Linked DNA regions of Homo sapiens. The protein of the gene in region 2 interacts with the protein of the main gene of each other region in a pairwise test. Each region holds a gene or a part of one and is shown on either strand. Other genes may lie near its edges.

The links. Proteins that work in one complex are often made in the same cells at the same time.
Region 1: the proteins of DCC (region 2) and ALDOB interact in a two-hybrid assay, tested with the Homo sapiens proteins (one large-scale study listed by BioGRID and IntAct).

The regions. Positions count from the first base shown.
Region 1 is NC_000009.12:101,432,975-101,436,972, forward strand, and holds the start of ALDOB (fructose-bisphosphate aldolase B), read right to left. Parts: upstream 2,801-3,998; 5' UTR 2,735-2,800; intron 1-2,734. UniProt on the Homo sapiens protein: Catalyzes the aldol cleavage of fructose 1,6-biphosphate to form two triosephosphates dihydroxyacetone phosphate and D-glyceraldehyde 3-phosphate in glycolysis as well as the reverse stereospecific aldol addition reaction in gluconeogenesis.
Region 2 is NC_000018.10:52,346,697-52,350,196, reverse strand, and holds part of DCC (netrin receptor DCC), read right to left. Parts: intron 1-3,500. UniProt on the Homo sapiens protein: Receptor for netrin required for axon guidance. Mediates axon attraction of neuronal growth cones in the developing nervous system upon ligand binding. Its association with UNC5 proteins may trigger signaling for axon repulsion.

The DNA.
Region 1 (3,998 bases), on a different chromosome or scaffold from region 2:
TTAAGAACCAGCTCTGCCTAATCTAGCTGGAACCTCAGGCAAGTCAGGCAGCTTCCTGAGTCTCAGTTTACTATGGATTAAATGGTGATAATAACTGTTCTGGTTGTCTCTTTGCCAGGTAACTCAAATGCCATCTATGAGCACCCTGCTCATTGTAGTTGCTCAAAATATATTTGTTAAATTGCATGATAAACATGAAGATTCTTTACAAAGCACTATAAAATGCAATGTATTACTAATTCTCTTTTTTTAATGAAAAAAATCACCTAAGTGACCTCCATTTTTCTGTTTACTGCCTATTACTAAACTATTTTCTTCAATCTGGGTATGCTGACTCAACCAGAATAACAGTGAAAATGATAATTCAAACTAATACTGTTTACAGGGAGTTAAACTTCTACAGTGGGATTAAAGGTCTGTACCACGTTAGCACAAATGTCACCTCTCTGTTAATCATAAAACAGGGTCACAGGCCAATGTTCACCACAAGGAGACAGGAGGACAACCTGGGATGGGTAATGACAAAGAACGATTTCCGTACTCCTAAGCCTCTGCTCTCTCAGATCTCAAGCCAACTTTTTTCAGTGTGATGGAAGTTGTTCACATTATATTATTAAATGAAAAACAAGTTTCAGAGAAGTATGCAATATATACTGTCCTCCTATTTTTTAATTAAAAAATGATATATACCCATACTGTTTTTGTGTCTATATAAACAAAGAGTAACAACTCTGGAGTTACCTCTGAAGAATGGGGTAGGGTGGAGAGATTCTCACATTTCTTTTCTTTTTCTTTCTTTCTTTTTTATTTTCTGAGACAGAGTCTTGCTCTGTTGCCTAGCCTGGAGTGCACTGGCACAATCATGACTCACTGAAGCCTCGTCCTCCTGGGCTCAAGTGATCTTCCCACCTCAGACACCAAGCAGCTGAAACTACAGGCGCCTGCCACCATGCCCAGCTATTTTTTTTTTTATTTTTGGTATAAACAAAGTCTTGCTATGTTGCCCAGGCTTGTCTTGAACTCCTGAGTTCACGCGATCCTCCCACCTTGGCCTCGCAAAGTGCTGGGATTACAGGCATGAGCCACTGCACCCGGCCACATTTCATTTTATACATTCTTTATCACGCACTTTATTACATATGTGTAACAAGTAATATGTATATAAATCTGGAGGAAAGTTGTATTAACAACAGAAGGTAACCACAGAAAAACAGAGCTACAAATGACCTCAGAGATACCTGCGTCAACCCTGTCACTTTAGAGATGAGGAAACTAAAGCCAGAGAGACTATGTCTGATGTGCCTTCTAAGTTGTGATGTTCTAGGATTGCAAGTTACATCCTATTGGCTTATGACTTAGAATTCTATTTCTAATCCTTCAGCAAAATAGCAGGTAGAATCCTATGGTATGGTTCTTTCTGCCTTCCTTGAAGATGTTCTGTGAAAACATAATTATTTGTAACATGGATATTTAATTCCTGGAGAAATAGAAGGCAGCAGAAAGTTCATTTGCTTCTCTATGTACAAGACAAATGGATTTTTAAGGCAAATATGAGGAGGCTTATTTATTGATAGCCCATGATTTCTAGGCACTGCATGCAGCACTTTTGTACATGATGCTTAAAGCTGCCAATAGCTTCATTATCCACCCCAATGTCCCAGTGACAAGTGCAGTGGGATGATCTAGGGCAGTCCTAGGACAGCCTGATTTCCAGTGCCCTTTAACACACGCGGAGCAGCCCAGAACGAGTCCTGAATGGTGCTCTTTCCTCTAAACTTGGAATGAAGCCAAAGGACCTCTTAGATATTCAACATTTCCCCATTCCCTGCCCCAGTATCTCTGGCTCTAACCTGGGCCTGGGTGCTACCCAGATGTGCCTTAGCTAAAGTGATGAATAGCAGGGTAGCAGAGTTCAAGCTCTGGTGCATCCAAATTGTCTAATGGAGCCCTAGGTAACTATTTAAAGAGAAGTTATTTTTTAAAAAGGCAACATATTCTCACAATGCCTATTTTTCAGATAGTAGAGCAAATGTATCAAAATACACAACCTTTTGATTCCTACTATCTTAAGCTGTAGGGTCTTCACAGTGTCTGGGGCCAGCAGGAAATGTTCTAGAAAGTGTCAAACATGAAGGGTTTGGAAATTCATAATCAAATGATGACTATGCTCTGTGAAGTTTCCAACCCTGTTGCATTTCCTCATTTGAGCAGTGGGTGAAGGCGAAGGGCAAAATACTCCAAGGGTTTGTTTCTGTGACAAAGAAACTTCAGTGTCGGTACCAGTAGGTGTGGGAAGAGAATGTAGAAAATGACATAAGGCAGTAGATATGTAAATAAATCACTAAAATAAGTAGTTGTTATGAAAAGAGAGTTGAGAGTTGAAATGAACAGGAATCTCAAAAACTGATTAGAACCTAACGATAGGAGTGTTCAAGTTGTTTTTCCTAGATCAGAGACTCACAAGGGCCTCATTCAGGTAACACAAGTAACTGGCAATCAATCTTGGGCATTTTGCCACCTCTCAAAAAGTCAGGAAAGGTGTGAATGAGCATTTATACTTAGAGAGAGGAAAACAAGCATTTCCCTCCAAGCAGAGCCATCATGTTTTCAGCCACCATCAAGTTTTTCCCGAAAACAAAGGCAAACCAATCTTCCCTTCTATAAGCTTAGTAGTATTATTAACCCCTTATTCACTGGTGCTGTCCAGGTATACAAAGGAAGCTTTTTTACTTACAGTTTGGGAGAGAAGAGTCCTCCTAGATATCAAAAGCTGTGGGTGAGGCAGCAGCTGCCAAATAAGACAGATCTTTGGTAGCACACAATTTTTATAGACTTCTCATCATGTTTTTTTTTTCCAATATTTGCCCTCCCCTTTCTACCTTGACCTAGTAGGGAGGTGTTTATTCAACACCTCTGATTGGCTCATAAACAACCAGTCCTTAAAATCATGCCCATATACTCCTTATGCTCATAGAATGTTAAAGCTGCAAGGAATGTCTTTAGACCGTGGAGTTCCTAATCCAGACCCTCCATTTCACAGATGAGGAAACTAAGGCAAGGAAGATAAGGAGGTTCCCTTAAGTCATACAGCTAGTCAATGATGGAGCTCTAGGGTCCATTAAATGATACTAGGAAGAATGTTAGTGTAGCTGTAACACTTACAAAACACATGAACTTGGTGACGGGTTTTTGGTTTTGTTTTTTACTTGTCTGAGCCGTTATTTTCTTCTCTGTAAAGTGGGATCTCAATTTCACAGGAGCATTAAGTGAGTTGTATAGTGTCTGTACGCAGTAGGCATTCAAGAATTATTATTTCCAAATTAGGTAATCAATGCTATATTTTCATTATTTATCTTCAGTATATCATTAGTAGTCAATTCCAACAATTTATTCTATAATTTATAGTTAAATTTAAATAATCTTTCAATAAAAGAAATTGATTCTGAATCCTTGAATTTCCCATGTGTGAATTTTGTCCAAATTGGAAATAAAATTCAAAACATTCTGTTTTTAAAAATCATTGTCTCTCCCATCTTCTCCAGTCCTCCAAAACCTAGCTGGGCTTTCTGATGTATTTAATGCCAGAAATCATTGTTTTGTATTCCCATTCTCTTTTAACCTTTGTACTTTTGTCTTCAAATTTGGTTAAAAACTAGAATTAAAGTGATTGAACTAAGCCATCAACACCCCTAAATATGGTACTGTCTGGGTATGGGTTCATTCTGCAGGGCTTTTTCCTAAGTATGAAACCCAAATTTAATTCCAGAAAAGGTAAATAAAAATATTATATGCTTCCAGAGGCAAATGATGAATGAGGCAAATAAATGAGGGAAATCTAAAAGTGATGGAATGACCGTAATTACAAAAAAGGGTAAATTCTCATGAACATGTTCCTCTGGAATAATTCATAAAATGGAAAACAAAACTAAGATGCTTGATTGTGCAGAGTGTAACACCAGAATTTATGGATGAAAAGGTGAAATGTCAACAAAATGAAG
Region 2 (3,500 bases):
GCCCCTGCAGGGCAGAAACTCATCTAAATCTTTTATTCATCTATTTGTAATCGTTGGTAAAGGCTCAGTAACTATTGTACTATCTTCAATGAAATACTTGGTCTTATTTGGTCCTTATAATATCTCAATGATTTTATTAGGCATTGATAGTCCTTCCTGAAAACTGATAACACAAGTTTTGAGAGACCATATGTTTGTCTATGGCTGTACAATAAGCTAAAGATGATGCTGAATTTGTATTTTATAATATGACTCTGGAGAGCTTACTTAGAAGAGCACATCAGAGTTAGGCCCCTTGATTACAAGAAAGATATAAACAAACTAGAGGGAGTTAAAGTAAGAAGACTAAACATGATTAAGCTTCTGGAGTGGTATGAGGAAAAATCAAATGAATTAAATATTTATAATCTGGTTAAGTAAAGACCAAATGGGGAGGCGAGAGTGATTTATAGCTCGAATTATTGAACACATTTCAGCCCAGAAGAGGCAGTGTCACTGAAAAGGGTATGCAGGAATCAAGAGCCAGATGACAAGGGTAATGGAAAGAACATTTAGAACAGGACTATCTCAGATGAATTGTAAAATAAACTTTTAACAGTAAAACTGATATGCTGCTGAAAACTTCCCCAAGGGAAACAGTCACCAAACCATCCCTGGAGATGCCTCAAACCAGAGAGAGAAAATAACCAGAAATTGTCCTGCAGGGAACAGCTCTGCCCAGACATTAAACATGAAAGGAAAAGCTTTGCAGATTCTTCTCTCTAATTTGTATTCTTCTGGGATCCCATGAGACTGAAAAAAGATGCAGGAACAATGGATTGAGGACTCTGGGTGCAGAGGGTTTGCTTAGATGTCTCAGCCTTGGCTCACATCTCTAATGAGTCTGCACAGAAGGCAACACACTACAGAGGCCTCTGCAAGTACATCTGAGGCTTTATTTCATTCAGGGGTCTTCATTAGCCTGTCCCATGGGAGCAGGTGAAAAAATTATAAACCCAAACAAAAATTGGGGGGGATGGTGCACAAAGCACATACGTTTGTTTGAAACCCACAGTTATATATGCCATAAATGTAACAATGATATTGGGCCTATGTATTTTACCATGTTGGAAATATACCCAAATTCAAATGATCATATTAAGATTTTTAACTCAGATTTGGTGTCTACCATTACTACTCTGTGTTTCTGTTATCCTTTAGTTCCATTATATTCAGGGGATTCATAAGGAGCCTCAAATTAAGCCTGGCATCCCAGCATCCTGCTTCCCTGTAAATGATTCTCTATAAAGACACAATAAACAGGATAAGGCAGGATACTAACATGGCAGGACTTGCTCAGGGTAATCAACAATGTTACAGTGACTAAGAATGTCTTTTCCAACTCAAAATCAGTGTACATTTTGGGAAGGTGCTTAAATAAAGCCTAGGCCAGAGTCAACATGGTAAAGTATTAGGCGACAACTTCCTGAACATTAGACTACTGATAACATCTATGCCTAAAAGCAAAGGGTTGCTTAGTAGAAGAAACAGAATAACTACCAATAATATTAAGGTCTAAAAGCAAATGTTGCTCAGTTGAAGAAACAGAATCATAGAATTGTCTTGCTGACATCACAAATAGCTAACAAATTAATGGAAAAAATGTTCAGACTTATAAGCAATCAGGAAAATGCGAATTAAACCCACAATGAGAAGTTACCAGATGCGGGCAAATTAAGCATATGAAAATACCAAGTGTTGGCAGAGGCATGAAGCAAAGAGGCCTTTCATCTGCCCCTGGTGGGGGTTTCAGTAACTGCAACATGTCTTTGCCTCCCGGATGAAAAGATACCCTTCTATGACTCAGCAATTCCACTCCTAGGTATGCACCCTAAACATGGTGGCAAATTTGTGCTGGTGGACATGCACCAGAATGTTTATGCCAACTTTACTAGCAATAGCAAAAAACTGAATTTCAAAATCCATCAACAATAGATTAGATAAACTATGGTTAATTAATATCATGAAGTATTATACACCAGAGAAAGTGACTGAAATACAGCAATATGAATCCACATAGATGAAACTCAGATACTTAACGTTCAGCAAAATTGCAAGTCAGAGAATATACACATTATATTTATTTTATTACTGTTAAGAACAGCCAAGTAAAGTAACATGTTAAAGATGTATACATATGTGGAAAAACTGTACAAAAGGCAAGGGGTTAATACAAAAATCAGAAAACTGCTAGTGGGTACATGGGTATTTGTTATTATTACATTATTATTATTGTTATCATGATCATGAATTGTATTATTAATTATACCAAACACTATATGTATAGTACAGTTCATAATTTAAATAAATTATATAGTGTTGAAACTAATAACTAGAGTTGATCTAGTCCACATTCTCATTTAATAAGGAAAAATACGTTGTACAAAGTACAAGTGACATCCAAATTAATATCAGATGCTACAGAATCATTAGTTAAAACTAATTAGATATTCCTCTAATAAGGGATTCAGGTGCTGTTTTCTAATCTCCTCTCCTACTTTAAACACAACCCCAACAAAACTTAGTCCCCTATGTCTTAACATCAAAACTAAAAGAGAGAACTGCTTTGAGGAAGTTTTATACAGGGAGAAGTTTCAGCTGAACACAAGATGTAGACAAAATATATTTTATAGCCAGAGATAAAACTCAACAATAGTAACAGTCCATGGTCAATTGATGGGAAAAATAAACAGTTCTGTATGATGCAATGCCTTCAAAAATTATCCCTATAAAATCACATAATACTATAATGAAGTCATAGTGATGTATTGTATCTATTAAGAACAGGTTAAATTATGTTCTACATACTTTTAAAGAGGCAGCTAAGTGAGTGGAGAAATATTTCTAAAAGACTATAGAAAAATAAGTAAAATCTAAAAATGTGATTTGAGTTAAAAACATTTATATTAACTGCTTAACTTCTTTTTTCTCTTGTCAAAATGTAAACACAGATTTAAGAACATTGTAGATGGCCCAGAATAATGTTGTATTGACAAGTCCTCTTATCAGAACACAATTCACTAACCAGTTGGTATTTTCATCAGATAACATCCTAAAGATTCAGTTAATTCAGTGGAACATGTTTGTCCTAGATACTCTTAGGAGTAGCCTTCAGGCAAGAACCAATATTTAAAGGATGAACCAGGAAGAAATCTCCAAATTGCAATAAATACTCCTGTTAAGTTTCATCATCATAACCACAAATGGTTTTAAAGGGTCTTCCTCCCTGGAGGGCCATGGTGAAATGACTGAGCAAGCTAAAAGTCAAAAAATTTGGATTAGTGAAATTAAGCTAAAGTATATCACGAAGTAGAAGTAGATCATAGACACTGGGCTCGTGGAATTTACTAGAAAAGAGAAACATTCCTACAGAAGTCATGCCATAAGAATAGCCTTAAAAATATGATCAATAAATATGGAATGATTTGTGTGTTTCCTACTTGAACTTTTCCCCCCAAGAA